4 separate regions of the Homo sapiens genome follow, and regions 1, 2 and 3 are each linked to region 4. The links come from fine-mapping of genetic effects on gene expression. A gene starts in region 4. Each other region holds a variant in brackets. All regions are shown on one strand. Distances are between the middles of the regions. Region 1 holds the start of RAB3D (RAB3D, member RAS oncogene family). Region 2 overlaps CNN1 (calponin 1). Region 3 has its middle 36 kb from the start of ZNF20. Region 4 holds the start of RGL3 (ral guanine nucleotide dissociation stimulator like 3).

What was found. PIP is the estimated chance that this variant, and not a neighbour inherited with it, causes the effect. A credible set is the group of variants that fine-mapping cannot tell apart.
Region 1: its variant is the best candidate, but not a certain one, in a credible set for the expression of RGL3 in whole blood (TOPMed, PIP 0.62).
Region 2: its variant is the best candidate, but not a certain one, in a credible set for the expression of RGL3 in whole blood (INTERVAL, PIP 0.74).
Region 3: its variant is the best candidate, but not a certain one, in a credible set for the expression of RGL3 in ovary (GTEx, PIP 0.60).

What each region holds. Positions count from the first base shown.
Region 1 is chr19:11,337,608-11,342,753 of GRCh38, forward strand. RAB3D (RAB3D, member RAS oncogene family) reads right to left here and starts at 2,050. Exons shown (of 5, transcript NM_004283.4): 1 at 1,862-2,050. RefSeq lists a silencer at 1,833-2,092. The variant G/A (reference allele first, on the strand shown) is at 2,965.
Region 2 is chr19:11,548,995-11,554,140 of GRCh38, forward strand. CNN1 (calponin 1) reads left to right here. Exons shown (of 7, transcript NM_001299.6): 6 at 329-475; 7 at 556-1,329. The coding sequence ends at 801. ELOF1 (elongation factor 1) reads right to left here. Exons shown (of 4, transcript NM_032377.4): 3 at 5,017-5,087; 4 at 4,052-4,816. The coding sequence ends at 4,752. Among named protein-coding and RNA genes, the nearest start is that of ELOF1, 7.7 kb to the right of the region's middle. RefSeq lists enhancers at 2,599-3,570, 2,940-3,234, 3,654-3,773. The variant G/A (reference allele first, on the strand shown) is at 2,213.
Region 3 is chr19:12,101,359-12,106,504 of GRCh38, forward strand. It overlaps the pseudogene ZNF788P and the pseudogene RNA5SP467. Among named protein-coding and RNA genes, the nearest start is that of ZNF20, 36 kb to the right of the region's middle. The variant C/T (reference allele first, on the strand shown) is at 2,128.
Region 4 is chr19:11,416,383-11,421,528 of GRCh38, forward strand. It overlaps RGL3 (ral guanine nucleotide dissociation stimulator like 3), which reads right to left and starts at 2,932. Exons shown (of 19, transcript NM_001035223.4): 1 at 2,864-2,932; 2 at 2,289-2,402; 3 at 454-677; 4 at 232-285. The coding sequence starts at 2,896. ODAD3 (outer dynein arm docking complex subunit 3) reads right to left here. Exons shown (of 13, transcript NM_145045.5): 12 at 4,746-4,830; 13 at 4,223-4,565. The coding sequence ends at 4,453. RefSeq lists an enhancer at 4,992-5,041.

The DNA.
Region 1 (5,146 bases), 79 kb before region 4:
GTTTGTCACAGTCCCTTCCTGAAAGAGTAGTTGGTTGTGAGCCTAAAATGAGTTTCTTTCTTTCTTTTTTTTTTTTTTTAGAGACAAGATCTCGCTCTGTTGCCTGAGGCTGGAGCGCAGTGGCGTGATCATAGCTCACTGCAGTCTTGACCTCCTGGGCTCGAGTGATCCTCCTGCCTCAGCCTCCCAAGTAGCTGGGACTACAGACATGCCACCACATCAGGCTAATTTAAAAAAAATTTTTTTGTAGAGATGGGGTCTCATTATGTTGCCCATGCTGGTTTCAAACTCCTCTGCTCAAGCAATCCTCCTGCCTCAGCCTTCCAATGTGCTAGGATTACAGGCATGAGCCACCACGCCCGACCTAAAATGTGTTTCTTTATTCATTCAACAAATGCTTACTCTCTGCCGGGCCCTGTTCTCTGTGGAAATGCAGCTGTGAATAGGACAAGAAAAAGTCCATCCTCGGGTGGTCACGTTCCTTCCAGTGGGAAGGTATTAACACACGTAACGGTCATTAGACAGTGCCTGGTATAGAGCTGGGGCACAAAAAATGTGACTGCTGTTTAATCTTCACACCCTGTGGCGTAACTGAGTCTGTATTGGGGTGGAGGGTGGGGAGACCTTTCCTATCTGGAAACCCAGAGGCCTAGCAAAGGGTTCAAGTGCAAGGCCGAGGGTAAGGGGCTCTGGCCCCTGCAGAACTAGATTCTGGAGAAGGCACAGGTGTGGACTTCGCCCCAGCGTGTGCAGCCGGTGTGGCCCAGGTGTAAGCTGGGGTGGGGTGGGGGGAGGACCTGCCAGCTGGATAAGCTGGATAGAGCCCCTGATTAAGGCTTGGGTGTTGACTTTGGCAGGTGTCAGCCACTGGGGCGCCTGCCGCCCACCAACTCATGCCAAATACAACCCCTTCTCTGAGTTCCAAGGGGAAGGGGTTTTCTATGTACAGGGCCCAGGTTTAGAGTCCAGTTCTACCCCCTAAATGGGTACTGCTATTTTCTATTTGTCAAAGGGGCCAGGCCTGTCTCCTTCTGCCCAAGGCTGACTCACTCCAGCCCCAGTCCACGGAGGCAGGAGTGAGAGTCCTTATACCCAAGGAAACGATCCCAGCCACTTAATTAACACAACCCCACCACCACGACCACTGCCGCCCACCCTTGGTCTTTCCAGGCAATCTGTCCCACGGCTAGGCTCCTTGAATCTGCCCACACTCCAACATGCTGCTTCATCCGAGTCCAAGGTGCTCCCTCAACCCTCATAACCTCTCCCAGGCCTCAGTTTCCCCAGCTGTCTATGGCCGCTGCGGGAACCGCACGGAGAGGCTGCAGAAGGCCTGGATGCAGGCGGGGCAGAGGCAGAGACAGCCCTGGCACAGCTATTTCTCAACTGCCTTTGGGGCTTTTTTCCATTTTAAACCAGGACCCAACCGGCCCCACCCCGTGTTCCAGGAGAACGAGTTTAAGGAGGGGAAGAGAAGAGGCAGGAAACCTTTCCCCACGCAGGGCAGGGCCGCAAGGCTGGGGCCCCCACCTCCCCCAGCCTTAGCTCACCTGTGTCAGTCGGTCCCGCCTCTTTCTAACCATCTGCCGACCCTCCCTCAAGCCTGGCCCCGGAGGGCTCGCCTCTGTTCCCCTTCACTAGATTTGGGGCGCCCCAGCCAATGCAGGTGGACTCAGGAGTTTCCCCCATCACCATATGGTCCCAACGCCTGTCCCCAGCTGGGCTCTCTGCCCCGCCCGCGCCCCATCAGCGCTTCCCAAGTGCCCAGCTGGGTGGGGGCGAGGGCAGAGGCGTTCCCCGCAGCCCCGCCTTTGTTCCCCAGACCCCCTACCTTCCTCCCAAACCCCCGTACCCCACAGACCTGCTCGGATGCGGAGGGGCCGGGTGGGCTGCGCTCCTTCCCAGGGGTGACCTCGCGTAGGGGGCGCCGCCTGCAGGGGTTCCGCCTGTGAACTCGCTGCGGCTTGGCCCTGGCCGCGACCCCGACCCCGCAGCCGCAGAAGCCAGCAGCCTGCAGCCACCCGGATCCCGCGCGGGCTCCGCCCAGAAGGCGGAGGAAGGGCCGTTCCCGGAGCGGGGGATGGGGGAGGACGAAGAGGGGCCGAGTCTTGGGCGGGGCTTTCAGAGAGCGGGTGGGAGGGGCTGGAAGCTGCACCAAGCGTCTAGAGCCCGTCCTAGCCAAGCAACATCTCATTTTCCCAGCTGCTTGTAAAGAGCTTCTACTATACGCACGGCTGTTAAAAGCATAGAGTCTTGGGCCTGGTTCGAGTCCCAGCTCCACCACTTTCTAGTCTTGTGGCTTTGGACGCGTTACTTAACCTCTTTGAGCCTCAGTTTCCCCATCCGTCAAGTAGCTCATAGCGAGAGTACCCAACCTCACAGAGTTGTGGGAGGATTCTGATCTGAGTTAGTGTTTGTCAAGTGCAGTGCCGGCCTTAAAGTAGGCTAGGCCAGGCGCGGTGGCCTGTAATTACAGCAGTTTGGGAGGCCGAGGCAGGAGAATCACTTGAGGCCAGGAGTTTGAGACCAGCTTGGGCATCGTAAGGAGACCTCATCTCTACTAAAAATAACAAAAATTAGCCAGGTGTGGTGGCGTGCGTCTGTAACCCCAGCTACTTGGGAGGCTGAGGCAGGAGGATTGCTGGAGACATCGAGGCTGCAGTGAGCCTTGATTGCACCACAGCACTCCAGCCTGGGCAACAGAGCAAGACCCTGTTTCAAATAAATAAAAATAAACGAGAGCTGGGCGCGGTGGCTTATGCCTGTAATCCCAGTACTTTGGGAGGCCAAGGCAGGCGGATCACTTGAGGTCAGGAATTTAAGACCAGCCTGGCCAACATGGTGAAACCTCATCTCTACTAAAAAAAAAAAAAAAAAAATACAAATATTAGGGGCTGGGCACGGTGGCTCACACCTGTAATCTCAGCACTTTGGGAGGCCGAGGTGGGCAGATCACCTGAGGTC[G/A]GGAGTTCGAGACTAGCCTGGCCAACGTGAAGAAACCCTGTCTCTACTAAAAAATACAAAATTAGCCAGGCGTGGTGACGCATGCCTGTAATCCCAGTTACTCTGGAAGCTGAGGCAGGAGAATTGCTTGAACCCGGAAGGCGGAGGTTGCAGTGAGCCGAGATCACGCCACTGCACTCCAGCCTGGGCAAAAAGAGCGAAACTCTGTCTCAAATAAATAAATAAATATACAAAAATTAGCCGAGCATGGTGGTGCACACCTGTAATCCCAACTACTTGGGAGGCTGAGGCAGGAGAATCGCTTGAACCCAGGAGGTGGAGGTTGCAGTGAGCCGAGATCGCGCCACTGCACTCCAGCCTAGACGATGGAGTGAGACTCTGTCTCAAAAAAAAAAAAAAAAAAATTAAAAAATAAATGAGGCTGGGCACAGTGTCTGATGCCTGTAATCCCAGCCCTTTGGGAGGCTGAGGCAGGAGGATTCCTTGAGCTCAGGAGTTCAAGGCCAGCCTAGGCAACATAGAGATCCCAACTCTACAAAAAATTTTTTTGAAAATTAGCTGGCCACAAAAAAAAAAAAAAAAAAAAAAAGAAAAAGAAAAAAAGAAAAAAGAAAAAAAAATTAGCTGACCATGGGGGCACATACATGTAGTCTTAGCTACTCCGGAGGCTGAGGCAGGGGGATTGCTTGAGCCTGGGAGAGAGAGAGGCTTCAGTAGGTTATGACTGTGCCACTGCACTCCAGCCTAGGTGACAGGGCAAGACTTTATCTCTAAATAAAGAAAGTTAAAGTGGGTTGGATCCCTTTGTGAAATACCCAGGTTTTGCTGGTGTTGGAATCCCAGCAATTCCACCTTACTCAATTTGCTGAACTTCTCTGAGCCCCCACTGCCTCGTGGGAACAAAAGTAGCTGCCTCAAGAGCTGCCACGTGGATGAATGAGGATGAAGTGCATTAGTTAGGAAGGGCTGGGTTATGCTTAGTAACAAGCACTCCCAAAGACTTCACGGCCCCAACAGCTAAGGTTTGGTTCCCATGATGGTTGTTTTGTGAAGTGAAAATGCAGCAAATTATGTACTGTTTTGTAATACTTCTCCTTGGAAGGGACACATGCCACCTCTGCTCACATTTCATTGGCCAAAGCAAGTCACATGGCCACCCCCAATGTCAGTAGGGTGGGAAATATGATTGTCCTCTAGGATCAGAACCATCTGGGCCTGGTGGCTGGCGCCCGTAGTCCGAGCTACTTTGGAGGCTGAGGTGGGAGGATTGCTTGAGTCCAGGAGTTGGAGGCTGCAATGAGCTATCATCACGCCACTTCACTCCAGCTTGGGTGACAGAGCAAGACCCTGTCAAAAACAAGACAAAACAGGCTGGGCGTGGTGGCTCACGCCTGTAATCCCAGCACTTTGGGAGGCCGAAGCGAGCAGATGGCCTCAGGTCGGGAATTCAAGGCCAGCCTGGCCAGCACAGTGAAACTCCGTCTCTACTAAAAATAACAAAAATTAGATGGGCGTGGTGGCAGGTGTCTGTAATCCCAGCTACTCAGGAAGCTGAGGCAGAATAATCGCTTGAACCCGGGAGGCGGAGATTGCAGTGAGCCAAGGTCATGCCATTGCACTCCAGCCTGGGCAACAGAGCAAGACTCTGTCTCAAAAAAAAAAAAAAAAAAAAAGACAAAACAGCCAGGCATGGTGGCTCATGCCTGTAATCCTAGCACTTTGAGAGGCCAAGGCGGGTGGATCACCTGAGGTCGGGAGTTCAAGACCAGCCTGACCAACATGGAGAAACCCTGTCTCTAGTAAAAATACAAAAAATTAGCCAGGCATGGTGGCGGATGCCTGTAATCCCATCTACTCAGGAGGCTGAGGCAGGAGAATCGCTTGAACCCAGAGGCAGAGGTTGTAGGGAGCTGAGATCGCACCACTGCACTCCAGCCTGGACAACAAGAGTGAAACTCCGTCTCAAAACAGAACAAAACAAAACAAAACAAAACAAATAATACATGATATGTCAGTGGTTAACAACATGTCTGGTATACAGCAGGTGCTCAATAAATGGGCATCATTATAGGAGAGGCTTACAGGATAAAATGGCTGACACTCCAAACCATCATGCTTCATGAATGGGGAAACTGAGGCTCTTGGCTCTACCCTTGCCTGCCCCTCCCCCTGCTTCTCATGG
Region 2 (5,146 bases), 130 kb after region 4:
TGGCCAACATGGTGAAACCCCATTTCTACTAAAAATACAAAAAATTATCCGGGCATGGTGATGCCCACCTGTGATCCCAGCTACTCCGGAGGCTGAGGCAGGAGAATTGCTTGAATGTGCAAGATGGAGATTTCAGTGAGCTGAGATCATGTCACTGCACTCCAGCCTGGGCAACAGAGCAAGACTCCGTCTCAAAAAAAAATAAATAAAATAAAATAAAAATTGAAAAAAATGATAAAGCGGCGCCTCATCCTCTCCCATCAGCTATGCCTCATGGCCCATGATGAGGTCTGTAATTATTGGTGTGATTCTCCTTCTGGCTTCCTAGATGGGCACCAACAAGTTTGCCAGCCAGCAGGGCATGACGGCCTATGGCACCCGGCGCCACCTCTACGACCCCAAGCTGGGCACAGACCAGCCTCTGGACCAGGCGACCATCAGCCTGCAGATGGGCACCAACAAAGGAGCCAGCCAGGTGAGTGGGGGCCCCCGGGACACGCCGTCAAGGCCCAGGACCCTGGCCACCCCACGGCCTGACCACACCACCCTTCGCAGGCTGGCATGACTGCGCCAGGGACCAAGCGGCAGATCTTCGAGCCGGGGCTGGGCATGGAGCACTGCGACACGCTCAATGTCAGCCTGCAGATGGGCAGCAACAAGGGCGCCTCGCAGCGGGGCATGACGGTGTATGGGCTGCCACGCCAGGTCTACGACCCCAAGTACTGTCTGACTCCCGAGTACCCAGAGCTGGGTGAGCCCGCCCACAACCACCACGCACACAACTACTACAATTCCGCCTAGGGCCACAAGGCCTTCCCTGTTTTCCCCCCAAGGGAGGCTGCTGCTGCTCTTGGCTGGACCCAGCCAGGCCCAGCCGACCCCCTCTCCCTGCATGGCATCCTCCAGCCCCTGTAGAACTCAACCTCTACAGGGTTAGAGTTTGGAGAGAGCAGACTGGCGGGGGGCCCATTGGGGGGAAGGGGACCCTCCGCTCTGTAGTGCTACAGGGTCCAACATAGAGCCGGGTGTCCCCAACAGCGCCCAAAGGACGCACTGAGCAACGCTATTCCAGCTGTCCCCCCACTCCCTCACAAGTGGGTACCCCCAGGACCAGAAGCTCCCCCAGCAAAGCCCCCAGAGCCCAGGCTCGGCCTGCCCCCACCCCATTCCCGCAGTGGGAGCAAACTGCATGCCCAGAGACCCAGCGGACACACGCGGTTTGGTTTGCAGCGACTGGCATACTATGTGGATGTGACAGTGGCGTTTGTAATGAGAGCACTTTCTTTTTTTTCTATTTCACTGGAGCACAATAAATGGCTGTAAAATCTCCTGAGGCCTCAGAGCTGCTCTGTTTTAGATATGCGCCATATCCCGCACACACATCTGCACGGACACACATGCCCACATGCACCCTAAGACGTACATACACACTCACACGCACCCTAAGACACACACCTCACTGTAGCCACTCAGCTAGACACAGGACAGGCACCCCATCACACTCACATGCAAAGTCCACACACACACACACACTCCCCCCTTTCACACACAGATATGCACACACAGGCAGTACACACTCCCTACGACATGTAAAAAAGGCATAGCCAGCCGGGCACAGTGGCTCATGCCGGTAATCCCAGCACTTTGGGAGGCTGAGATGGGAGGATCACTTGAGGTCAGGAGTTCGAGACCAGACTGGCCAACATGGTGAAACCTTGTTTCTACTAAAAATACAAAAATTAGCAGGGTGTGGTGGCGCATGCCTGTAGTCCCGGCTACTTGGGAGGCTGAGGTAGGAGAATCACTTGAGCCCTGGAGATCTAGGCTGTAGTGAGCTGAGATGGCGCCACTGCATTCCAGCCTGGGCAACAGAGCAAGACTCCATCTCAAAAAAAAAAAAAAAAAAAAAAGGCACAGCCAGAGAGCCAATGCGCGCGCGCGTGCACACACACACACACACACACACACACACACACACACGACCCACACTGCTCTCCCAGAGGCTTGTGGATGGTGGTGACAAAGAGCCTGAGTACTGGGACAGGCTAAATGGCATGTGAATCACAGAGCAGCTGCCTGGATGACCTCGGGCAATCACTTTCCCTCCCTAGACCTGTTTTCCCATCAAAATAATGGGGACAGTAAGCCTCTTGTGGTCATGAAATGACACCCCCAGATGGGGTGATGTTCTACATGTTTAATCGCTGGTAAA[G/A]ACCAGGCATCAATAGAGAAAGGATGACAAGTAGGGGTCCTGGTGGGCCCTGTGGGCAGGGTGAACCCTTTAGCCCCAGACTGTGGGGAGGGGAAAGGGGACAGGGAGAGGGGCACTTCTGAGCCAAGGCAATGGCCCTTTACTGACTGGCACAGGGCACCATAGGGCACGGTTAATTCTGTGCGCCCCGCCCGCTCTCAGCCGTCTTAAGGCTGAGCCTGCCAACCCGGGACTCTAAAAGGCTGTGTCCAGGGCCTCAACCTCCTCACATTTCAGAGGGGACCCTGTTATCCCCGGGAGGAGGGAGAGGTCCCCAACCATCAGGATTCCAAGGAGGAGAGGAGGCAGAGAAGCGAGGAGCGCGGCACGGAGCTGTCTTCTCCCCAGGGAGGGCAGGAGTTGAGGCTGGAACGTGGAGACCTGCGGAGGCAGACACCAGAAGACCCGCGCACAGACGCACGCAGCCCCTGGGGCCTCGTAAACCGGATTCCAGGCGCTTTTGGCCTGGCTACCGCAAGTCCTGCTCCCCCTGGGCCGGCGCGGGGAAGCTATGCTGAGGAGGATCCGGGCCTGGCCCAGGGCCCTGCCTCCTCGGGAAAACAGCACCATATTAGCACTTAGCCTGTGAGGCTGGGGTGGGCGGGCGGCAGGAAGGGCCTCGGGTGCCAGAGGAATGAGCCCCCTTTTTGCTGGATCCCAGAGGGCCATCACCCTAAACCTAGGTGCCTGTCCACCACTCTGCGCATGTGTGCCGGCTCCTGCCAGGGCTAGCAGACCTTACCTGGGATCTTGGAGGTGGCGGGATAACCAGGGAAGACATGTCATGGCAGAGTGGGCCTGAGGGGGTGCACAGGCCAGACCCAGCAGCCCAGTCTGGCAGCCAGGGCTTCCGGGCCAGCTCAATGTCTCCCCCCGCTGTTCACATCCGTCAGTGCCCTGGGTGGGCCCCAGAGCCGCTCAAACCATGCCTGGCACTTCCATCCTCAGCATGGCTCCGGGAAGAAGGTGCTTTCATCCCCTGCACTGTAGCAACGAGGACTCTGAAGCACAGGTCACCTGCCACCCGGGCTCATGAGGCCAGGTGGAGGGTCTGGCACTGCCCCAGGTTGCTGGGTGTTGTGGTCCTTGTCACCGGTGCGACCAGCTAAGGGGACATCAGCCCTCAGGTGCTCCCCATCGGCCACACACATCCCGCCCCAACACCAGCCTTCTGAGAGTCCTCACCACCCTTGAATAAAGGCCCCTTTCATGTTTCCCTCCCGTGTCCCTCTTCCACTCACTACCTCCAGAACGGCCTGTAAGCTGTTCCCTCAGCCTGGACTCTGGGCTCACAAGAAGTCAGACTGTAAGCTGTGGAGCCTCGTTTCCTGGGTTCAAATCCCCCCTGTGCCACTTTCTGGCTGTAGGGTCTTGGGCCAGTGACCTCCTTCACCTCTAGCCTCTGTTTCCTCATCTTTGAACTTGGGGTTAGCTTGGCACCTGCCCCACAAAGTGGCTGTCAGGACACTGGGGCGACGCAGGAAGGCCAGAGGTCAGCGTCTGGCTAGAGGTGGCCCTACGGTGTCACTGTCTCAGCCTGCCCCTCCCAGAAGCCTCCTCTGACCACCTGTTCTGTCTCACCTCCCCCATTTCCTATTGTGACTGCTGTAAACACCTGGCCAGATGTCTGCCTGCTCCACCACCCTGAATGCTTACTGACTGAATAAAACGCTGGGTGGTTTGAAGGGCTGGTCACATGGGCCACCAGGCCACCTCCCGAACGTCAGAGCCTCAGGTCCCCTCTCCTTCTTCTGGTGACCAGGCAGACGCAGAACCCAAGACATCACGGACAGCAAGGGATGTGCGCTGGCTGCTTTATTTAAGGGCTTGTGATTGACAGCTGTCCCCATCCCAGCCCTTGCTTCCTCTACAAAAGCAACTGAACATGAAACGGGCTTCCTGGTTACCATGGGGAGGGGGGCGGCTCCCTGTCAGGGCCCAGCCCAGGGACCTGGGGAACGGCGGCTTTGAATCCCCGGCCACGGGCACTAGAAGGTGGAGAAGGAGAGCGGGAAGTCCAGTTGAGATGGGCACGGTGCTGGTGAGGAGGCTGGAGAGGTCCTGTTCCAGCCTCTAGTGGGCTTCCCTTGTCCAGGATGTCAGGAAACAGTCCCCCAATTCCGCCGGGGGGAGCCAGAGCCCCAAGGCTGGGGGGCCAGGGGCTGCAGGGAACACAGCAAAGGCTTTCGGAGCCAAGTGAGATCAGTTCAGGCCCCTCAGGCCCAGGAACCCGACACCACCGCGTACCTGTGAGCACACACTCACGGCCACCCCAGTGACACGTGCAGCCACACACACCCACACTCACTCACACCCACACCCACACGCACACCCACTACACACACACACACACACACACACACACACACACACACACACACACACACGGCTGTGACAGCCCAGGACCCACACCCTGGACCCCTGGAATGTCTCTGGACCAGAACCGAACAGCTGGATCCACAGTACGCGGGGCTGCTCAGGGGGCGGGTCCTCTGTGTCGCTACTGATTGGCCGCCTCGCAGGCGTCTATCCAATCACTGTACACATCCACGGGTTCTGACAGATCTGGGCCACTTAGGTCAAGGGCGATCATTGGCATTGGAACCCTGCCCTGCATCTTCTCACCCCACAGAAATCACTAGGTGGCACCTGTTCCTCTGGACGGCTTTGGCCCTGCACCAGGGCACACAGTGGGCCAGATGAGCAGGGTCCGGACTCCAGCCCCCTCCCCACCCTCTGGAAAAAGCCCAGGTTTCCAAGGATACACGTTATGGGCGTCTGGAATTCCTCTAGGCACACGGTACAAGAGATGACTCCGGTGTTGCGGGCACGGTCCCTGAAACAGACCAAGAGAAGGGACTGGTGAGCAATGCGTCCTGGGCCTGTGGGTGATGA
Region 3 (5,146 bases), 680 kb after region 4:
CATTGTTCTACCAAATTGGCTTATCTGTTAACCATTTTAAAGGTATAGGTTCTGGAGGCTTGACAATGGCCACCATCAAAAATAATACCCTAATCTTTGGCAGGAACTTTCTTTCTGCTTGAAGCAGTTCTTTCAAACCTTGCAAATTTTTTTCTAGTCCCATACCAGGGACATACCCCATTTCATGCATTGTATGTTGACTTTGAGGGCTATATAATTGTTCTGGAATTAGAACTTGTGCTCCCCATTGTCATAAATCTCTCCCCCATAAATTTACAGGTACAGAAGTTATAATTGGTTGAATAGTACCAGGTTGTCCATCAGGCCCTTCACAATGCAAAATATAACTACTTTGATATACTTTAGGGGCTTTACCAACTCCAACTATGTTAAATTGAGCAGGTTGAATTGGCCACGTGGACGGCCAGTGCTGTAGAGAAATGACTGAAATGTCTGCTCCTGTATCTACCAAACCTTTAAATTTCTTTCCCTGAATAGTTATTTTCACAGGTAGGATGTTTATCAGTAATTTGATTTACCCAATAAGCTGCTTTGCCTTGTTTATTTGTGCTTCCAAATCCTCCTGTTCGTTTAATTTCACTTTTCCCCATTTCCACATACGACACAATCAGGAGCTGTGCTATGTGCGCTCTCCTGGCTCTGCTTTCCAGGGAACAGAAGTAGATACAACAATTTGAATTTCCCATTATAATCTGAATCAGTGTCTCCTGTATGTATTTGTACGTCTTTTAAACTTAAACTAGACCTTCCTAAAAGTAATCCTATTGTCCCTGCTGGCAAGGGTCCGCAGACTCCTGTTGGGACCTTTTGCGGGGGTTCCCCAGGCAGAAGGCTCACAGCTTTTGTGCAGCATAAATCTACTGCAGCACTACTGGCTGTGGGGGGGTGGACAGACATTGTACAGGGGTGAGGGAATGGCCTGAGCTAGAAATGCCCCGGTTTAGAATGGGGCCCTCATGGCGTTTCCCGAAATCGGGTTCCCTTCTTTATCAAACTTAGGATGACATTGGTTAACCCAATGTTTTCCTTTTTTACATTTTGGACATATTTCAGAATCAGCAGTTTTCTTTTCTCCCCATCTGGCGGCCTGACTCGCTGATTTTTTTCTACATTCTTTTTTAGTATGACCATGCTTCCCACAGTTAAAACAAGCTCCAGGAAGTGGAGTATTTCCTTTATCCACTCTCAGTCCTGCCATTGCCTATGCCAACAAAGTAGCTTTATGTAGATTATCTCTGATATCATCACAGGCCTTGATAAAATCAACTAAATGTGCTTTCCCTCTGATAGGTCACAGAGCAGCCTGGCAATCGGGATTAGCATTGTCGAAAGCTAATAACTGCAACACTATATCCTGAGCAGCCAAATCTGCAATCATCTTTTTAAGAGACTCCTGTAACTGAGCTATAAAGTCAACGTATGGTTCTTTGGATCCCTGTTTTATAGCACTAAAGGAAGGGTATTGTTCTCTACCTGAAGTGATTTTTTCCCAAGCTCTAATGCACACTCCTCTAAGCTGTTCTATGGCATCATCCCGCATGACCAGTTGTGCATCTAAACCAGCCCAGCCTCCAACCCCCAAAAGTTGGTCTGCAGTTACATTAATTTGAGTTTGGGCCTGGGCATTGCGAGCAGCCTGAATGGAAGCTTCATCTGCCCACCAAATTTTAAATTTTAAGAACCGAGCAGGAGTTAGACAAGCTCGAGTAAGAGCATCCCAGTCAGTAGGTATCATCCAACTGGAAACAGCAACATTCTTTAACAGTCCCATTATAAAAGGAGAACCTGGTCCATACTGATGTATAGCTTTTTAAAATTCTTTGAGTAATTTAAAAGGAAAAGGCTCAAATGTAGCTGTAATATTTCCCTGTTGATCTTGGGGGGTGTATTCATTCTAACAGGGAACTGCCAAGCCTCTGTATCACCCTCTCCTCTAGCTTGCTGAATTCCTGCCTGAATAGAACTAAGAGTGGTCACTCGGCGCTGCTCAAACAGTCACTGGGGCAACTACTTTTCGCCCAGTGTCCTCCAGAAAAGAAAGATCTGGAGGGTCTTTTTCTTGAAAATAATAAGGAGGGGGTACAGAAGGGTAGGGATGAATCTCTC[C/T]CTCCTTTCCTGCTTTAGCTTTAACTGGCAAATAAACCTCGTCTGTAACCTCTTCTGTTACTTCATTATTCACTCATTCCTCCTCATCATCAGTGTGAAGAAGTTCCAAGGTGAAACGAACCAGACCCCATACTTGTCCCATTGTTACCCTGAGGCTTCCGAGCTCCCCTTCTTACTCACCATGGGGATTGCTTTAAGAGTACTCGGGTGTCCTCCAGCTAGTTTTCCGTTCCAACCATTGCTCTGGCGACCCTTCAACCTGCATTCAAGCCCCCATGAATGGACGCCACTTGCCAAGACCAGCTCAGTCGGGGAGACCCTAACCCAGCGGCGCTAGAGGAATTAAAGACACCACACACACCGAAATATAGAGGTGTGAAGTGGGAAATCAGGGGTCTCACAGCCTTCAGAGGTGAGAGCCCCAAACAGAGATTTACCCACATATTTATTAACAGCAAACCAGTCATTAGCATTGTTTCTATAGATATTAAATTAACTAAAAATATCCATTATGGGAAACAAAGGGATGGGCCAAATTAAAGGAATAGGTTGGGCTAGTTAACTGCAGCAGGAGCATGTCCTTAAGGCACAGATAGCTCATGCTGTTATTTGTGGCTTAAGAATGCCTTTAAGCGGTTTTCCGCCCTGGGTGGGCCAGGCGTTCCTTGCCCTCATTCCAGTAAACCCACAACCTTCCAGTGTGGGCGTTAGGGCCATTATGAACATGTTACAGTGTTGCAGAGATTTTGTTTATGGCCAGTTTTGGGGCCAGTTTATGGCCAGATTTTGGGGGGCCTGCTCCCAACATAAAGTATATTGATGTTTTTTTTATTACAGCTAGTATATATTTAAGAATGTTAGTATAGGATTTTGAATAAATTTTGTTTTTAAGAGAAGTTATAATTTAATTAGATGGGGAGGAAAGTCTTTGAAGAGGAACCTCTACTTTACTTTTTATAAAGTGATTCTCCTGCTCAGTCTCCCCAGTAGCTGGGATTACAGGCATGTGCCACCACGCCTGGCTAATTCTGTGTTTTTAGTAGAGACAGGGTTTCTCCATGTTGTTCAGGGTGGTCTCAAACTCCTTACTTCAGATGATCTGCCCACCTCAGCCTCCCAAAGTGCTGGGATTACAGGCGTGAGCCACCATGCCCAGCCTGTAGTGGTTCTTTAATGAGCAGCTTTATTGCTTTGGCAAAAGGTTGGAATAATCCATATGAGCCTATGATGTTAGGTCCCTTACAGAGTTGTATGTAACCTAAACTATTCATTCAACAAATGTTAAGATTGCTGTAGTGAGAATGGTGGGAAATAAGTAGGAGAAGGTTAATTATAAACTTATTGTTAAGAAGAAGGATTAGTTTACTTTGACTAGTACGTCTTAGTCAAAATCATTTTGAGGTTATATTTTGCTCTGAGGTCACCTCAACTAAAATTTTTAGTTCATTGGATACAATGTTAATACCTGTTAAGTTAGGTTAATTATTGGATATATGGACTAATAAATTTAAGTTCCGTAGAGTCTTCTCATCATATTTAAGTATTTCTGCCTCTTCACAGATAGGTCAATTGCACTGATTAAGAGACAGCTAAACCCTCATGTGACCAGTCTTGCAAGTCTCTGTTTCGGGAACAAATGATTATGCTATGCCTGTACAGTCAAGATACTGGCACCATTAAACATGTCACTGGGCAGGCAGTGCCAGTTTTTGGTGATGTTTTTGGTAAACAGGCAGGGTTTGGTTTTGCTGAGTTCCTTTTATTTTTTAAAATCTTTCTTTAGTGCTTGCCTTTGTTGGCTTAACAATTTGGAGAAAATAATTAGTTTATAGGTTTGCTTAGTTATATTGAGTTTTGTTAACTGTCAGTGGATCATCCAAATATGATGGTAACTATGCATTTTTATACATATTTTATTTATTTATTTATTTATTTATTTATTTGAGACGAAGTTTCACTCTTGTTGCCCAGGCTGGAGTGCAGTGGCGCCATCTTGGCTCACTGCAACCTCTGCCTCCCGGGTTCAAGCAATTCTCCTGCCTCAGCCTCCCAAGTAGCTGGGATTACAGGCATGAGCCACCATGCCCAGCTAATTATGTATTTTTACTAGAGATGGGGTTTCACCATGTTGGTCAGGCTGGTCTCGAGCACTTGACCTCAGGTGATCCGCTTGCCTCAGCCTCCCAAAGTGCTGGGATTACAGGCGTGAGACACTGTGCCCAGCCTTTATACATATTTTATAGTAGGTTGTAGAAGTTCCCTCGTATTCCTGATTATTTCTATTTTGAAGGAGTGTTGAGGTTTGTCACTTTTTTTTTGCATGTGTTTAGATTGTGGTTTTTGATGTTGATTCTGTAACTACTGTGTATTGCATAAGTTGATTTTTGAAATGTAAGCAATGTTGCTTCCATGAATTAAATTCCACTTTGTCATGGAGTACAGATGTTGTCATATATGGGTGGATTCTCTTTGCAATTATATTGCTCCGGCTTTGTGTGTTAACATTTAAAGAGATATTCATGTATAGTATTATAGTCTAGCATTATAATATGCATATATATACACATTTATATACATGCACACATAAAGTATATATAGTATATAGTCTAGTTATGATAGATAACATAAATATTATATATAACTTGTAATGTGGTATATAGCTGTTGTATATAAATGGCATTATAGTAAACAACTTAATGAATTATGACATTATAGTATATAAAATTGATATAGTTTTAGTCTCCAGTGTATAGTGGGTTTCATTTCTATGTCAGCCTGCAGAATTATTCAAATACCACATTCTCATCCTCCCACGGGAACAAAGGAAAATCTTACCCTCTTGATGCTACAGTGTGCCATTCAAAAATATTCGTGATCATGGATTTAGGAAAGATTCTATGATATGACAATACAAGCACTAGGAACAAAGAAAAAGTATGTAATTGAGACTGCATTGAAATTTTAAACTTTTTTGTGTTTCAAAGGACACCACACCAGGAAGACATTGAAAAGCATATAG
Region 4 (5,146 bases):
GAGACAGGGTTTCGCCATATTGGCCAGGATGGTCTCTAACTCCTGACCTCCAGTGATCCACCTGCCTCGGCCTCCCAAAGTGTTGGGATTACAGGCATGAGCCACCACGCCCCACCTGACTCCCAGTCTCTTATTACCCAACCTGCAATTTTCAAAACCCCAGTCCGACTGCTAACCTTTGACCTCTTGGATTTCCCTCCCCGCACTCCCCTATCTGGATGAAGGACCCACCTCAGGTTCTTGTTGAAGCTCAGATCTTGTACCGCTGTCTTCTTGATCTCTACCCTGGGAAGAGGCCCCCCAGCAGGTGAAGAAGGGGGAACCTAGAGGGGGCTTAGGAAGAGGGCTCTGGGTCTGGGAGGTGTTTCCAGGTTCCACACCTGAGGAGGTGGAGGGGGGTGCCCAGTTGGGGTTCTAGGGTGGAGAATACGGAGGTTATGGTTCGCTACTGACCCGGGAGGTGGGGGCGGTGGCATTGGTGGCAGCAGAAAGCCCAGCAGGCAGGCAGTGGGTACAAAGGTCCGGTAGGTGGCCAGGAAGGCGGGCATGAAGCTGGGGTCCTGCTCACGGTCTCCAAACACCAACTCTCCCACCAGCCGCTCCAGGCGCGCTGCCCTCAGCACCCTCACCTTGCTGGTTCGATAGTGGAGGAAGGTATTGGCAATGGGGCTGGGAGCCTGCAGGAGGGGAGAGGTGGCCATGAGAGAGCAGGAGTGGTCCTCACAGCACCCCTTCTCTAGTCACATTCATCACTAGCACCACTCTTTTTTTTTTTGTTTTTTTTTTTGAGACAGAGTCTCACTCTGTTGCCCAGGCTGGAGTGCAGTGGCACGATCTTGGGTCACTTCAACTTCTGCCTCCTGGGTTCAAGCAATCCTCCTTCCTCAGCCTCCAAGTAGCTGAAACTACAGGCGCACACCACCAAGCCCAGCTAATTTTTGTATTTTTGTAGAGATAGGGTTTCACCATGTTGGTCAGACTGGTCTCGAACTCCTGACCTCAAGTAATCTGCCCCCCTTGGCCTCCCAAAGTCTCCCAAAGGGCTAGGATTACAGGCGTGAACCACCGTGCCCAGCCCCTAGCACCACTTTTTTTTTTTTTTTTTTGAGACAGAATCTCACTCTGTCACCTAGGCTGGAGTTCAGTGGCGTGATCTTGGCTCACTGCAACCTCCGCCTCCTGGGTTCAAGCAATTCTCTGCCTCAGCCTCCCAAGTATCTGGGATTACAGGCACCCGCCACCAAGCCCAGCTAGTTTTTTCGTATTTTTAGTAGAGACGGTGTTTCACCGTCTTGGCCAGGTTGGTCTTGAACTCCTGACCTGATGATCCACTTGCCTCGGCCTCCCAAAGTGCTGGGATTACAGGCGTGAGCCACCTCGCCCCGCCTGTAGCACCATTCTTTCATGTGATTCCTCTGTCTCCCGGCTTCTTGGAGTTATTGTTTTGGTTTGTTTTTTTTAGAAACAGGTCTTGTTTTGTTGCCCAGGCTGGGGTGCAGTGGCACAATCATAGCTCACTGCAGCCTCCAAGTCCTAGACTCAAGCGGTCCCTCTGCCCCAGCCTCCTGAGTAGCTGGGACCACTGCTGGGCATCATCACGCACAGCTAGTTTTTTAATTTTTATTTTTATTAGAGAGAATCTTGCTGTGTTGTCCAGGCTGGTCTCCAATTCCTGGCCTTCTGCCTTGGTCTCTCGAAGCGCAGGGATTATAGGTGTGTGCCCCACTCCCTGCCCGCTTGAAGTTATTGTTCCTCCCCATCCACAAATAGCTCCTGCAACTTGCCCTGGAAACCCTCCCTCTCCCATGCCCTGTCCCCTACTCCCTCTCCCGTCCCCTCCCCCTCCCGTCCCCTCCCCCCACCCCCCCGCCCCCGCCCCACACACTCTTTTCCACCCAGGGCTTCCCTCAGCCCTCCTGTCGCGCTTCACTGGCTGCCCCATCCGCCCTCACCTAGCCACTTCTAAACCAACCCCATTCCACCTTCCAGCCCCGGCCCTCTAAACCTGCCTTTCCCAACTCTGCCGTCCAGTTCTGTCCTTACCAAGTTGTCCCTAGGCTCCTCTCGGGAACTGCGCGGCCATCGCCTGGCCCCACCCCATTCCCTGGATCTCCCCCCACTTACCTGGCCGCCCCCAGTCCCCTTTCTACCTGGTCGCCTCATCTGGTCGCCTCCGAGCCCCTCCCTTCCTTCCGCCCACTGCACCTGGCGGCCTGTGCTCGGCTCTCCAGCTCCGCCCTCAACTGGTCGCTTCCGGCCCCGCGCCACCCACCAAACCCCCTCCTCACCTGGCTGCCCCCGGGGCCCTCCGCCGGGCTCCTGCGCTGACTGCGCTGCCGCCGCAGGGAGACACTGTACACCGCGCCGTCCTCGGTCTCTTCACCCCAGTCCTGCAGCGGTGCCTGGACGCACAGGCGGACTCAGGGCACCAAAGGGGCACAGGTCCTGGGGCCTCAGCCTCCTTGGCCGCTCGGACTCGGGCCGAGTCCTCCTGCTGCATCCCCACGCCCCTTCCCGGCCAGAAGCTGCGAGACTAGGGCTGGGGTCCCAGGCTAGTCCCCTCCTCGCTGCGGGTCCCCTCCTCCCAGGTCCTGAGGACATGGGGTGGCATTTGGGGATGTCCCAGGGCCCAGTCTAATAGAACCTGTCTCTAGCTCTTTCTGCCGACTGCGCTCAGAGACTCGCGCCCCCATCCCTAAGAGGAACCAGTCGCTTCACTGGGTCAAGGGCCGCGAGTCCCCAGGAGGGGACTCCAGGGCAAGTTCAGATTGGGAGCAGATACCGTCCGACGGGCGGGCGCTTGGAGTTTCTGGACCTGCGGGTCACCAGGGATGCGGGGTCCGGGGATCCCTTGTCCCCTTACCAGGGCCAGCTCTTTGCCTGCTGTGCGCTCCATGGCCGGCGCCCGTCCCTCTCAGTGGCGCCGCTGAGTGAGGCGGAAGGGCCGGCGGGTGGCGGGTGGCGGGCGGCGGGCAGTGGCCGGGCGCTGAGGCCAGAGGGGCGGAGCGGCCGAGCTGCTGGGGCGGGGCGGGGCAGGGCAGGCCGGACCCAGCCTCTGGGTGCCTCCAGCCGGACCCAGCGCCAGCCCAGGAGAGGTCCTGGCTCTTCCGCTGGGTGCCTATCAATCTGTCCCCAGAAGAAAGGACATATCTGTCCCCAAGGGGTCTTTTTTGTATCCCCAGATGTGGGGGAGCTCCTGTGTGGGGGCATGTGTGTGTCCCCAGACCAGAGTCCTCTGTCCTCCAGTGGAAGGGGCTAGCTTGATCAAGTGTGGGGGCATCTTCCACTTTTTATTATTATTGCTATTATTTTGAGATGGAGTCTCGTTCTGTCACCCATGCTGGAGTACAGTGGCTTGATCTTAACTCACTGCAACCTCCGCCTCCCAGATTCAAAGGATTCTTGTGCCTCAGCCTCCCAAGTAGCTAGGATTACAGGTGCCGCCACCATGCTCAGCTAATTTTTGTATTTTTTGTAGAGGCGGGGTTTTGCCATACTTGCCAGGCTGGTCTCAAACTCCTGGCCTCAAGAGATTCGCCCACCTCAGCCTCCCAAAATGCTGGGATTACAGGCATGAACCACGGCGCCCAGCCTTATTATTTTTTAGAGACAGGGTCTCACTCCTGTTGCCAAGGCTGCAGTGCAGTGGCTTGATCTTGGCTCACTGCAATCTCCGCCTCCTGGGTTCAATCCATTCTCCTGCCTCAGTCTCCCAAGTAGCTGGGACTACAGGCATATGCCACCATGCTCAGCTTTTTTTTTTTTTTTTTTTTTTTTTTTTTTTTTTTTGGTAAAAACTGGTTTTCACCATGTTGCCCAGGCTAGTCTGGAACCCCTGGGCTCAAGCGACACACCCAGCTCAGCCTCCCAAAGTGCTGGGAATATAGGTATGAATGAGCCACTGCACCCCGCCCTTATTTTATTTATTGAGACAGGGTCTGGCTCTGTGGCCCAGGCTGGAGTGCAGTAGCACGATCATAGCTCACTGCAGCCTGGAGCTCCTGGACTCAAGTGATCCTCCCAACTCAGCCTCCCAAAATACTGGGATTACAGGCATAAAACCACTACATCGGGCCATCTCCCATTTTTAAGCTCCATCTGCGTCACTAGCTGATGGGAGTCATCATGACCCAGGTTGGAGGAGGCAGTCTGTGGCCCTGGGTTTTCAGGGACAGCCGTCTCTTGGGTGGTGCAGGGTCAAAAACAGATGAATACCCAGGGGCATGGTCGGTAACATTTATTGCGCAACTCTGAGGCCGGGGCGGACCCAGCTGGGGAGATTTACTGTGGGAACGTCTGGCCCGGCCCCTTCCTCCCCTCCGGGCGCCGCTGGCCGCCTCCGTTCCCGGTCCGGGCCGCGTTCAGCCCCTGAAGGGGCCCCGTGGGGCCTGCGCTAGACCCGGAGGGATCGGGGGCTCCGAAGGGGGCCGCCTGGTGGGTGTCAGGACGAGTCTAGGACCTCCGAGAGCGACGGTGCTTCTTGTGACTTTCGATTAATTTCTGGGAACGGATCTTGAGTGATGCGCGGGTCACTACCTCGTTGTCCTCCTCCTCACTCTCTTCGTCTAAGGGGGGTGGGGGGATGAGCAGGGAGCGATGTGGGATCCAGGTCCCCATCCCTGGCTCCCCTTCCCTTTACCACCCCACTCCACCCCCACCTTGGCCCTGAACAGGGTATCTGACAACCTCCTGCTACCCAGCTTGGGGCCCCAACCGCACCCCTTCATCCCCCCACCCATACTGACCAAAAAACTTGTCCTTGGAAGTGGCAAGGGGCAGGGCGATGCGGGTGTTGTATTCGGGCAGCCTTCCCTCTAAGCTGGCGAGGAACTAAGCGGGGATGGGAAGCGAGAGAGGAAGGTGGGCGGGGCCAGGGGCCACCGAGAAGTCACGTTCCCCCTCCTCCCTACCCCATTCCGAGATATGCCCTAGTTCCAACTGGAGACCACTGCCCACTCCCATCCCTCCTTAAGCAGGCACCTTGATACCCAGCTTCACCCCCTCATCACTCAGGTCCGCCCCTGGTCTCTGGGGCCCTGCCACTAGGCCTCTCCCCATCCGGATACCCCAGCCGCGTCCTCTAGCCTCACAGGACCCGCCTGCACCTCTTCTGGTTTCTTCCCTCGTGGCTCGGGCTCACCCCTGG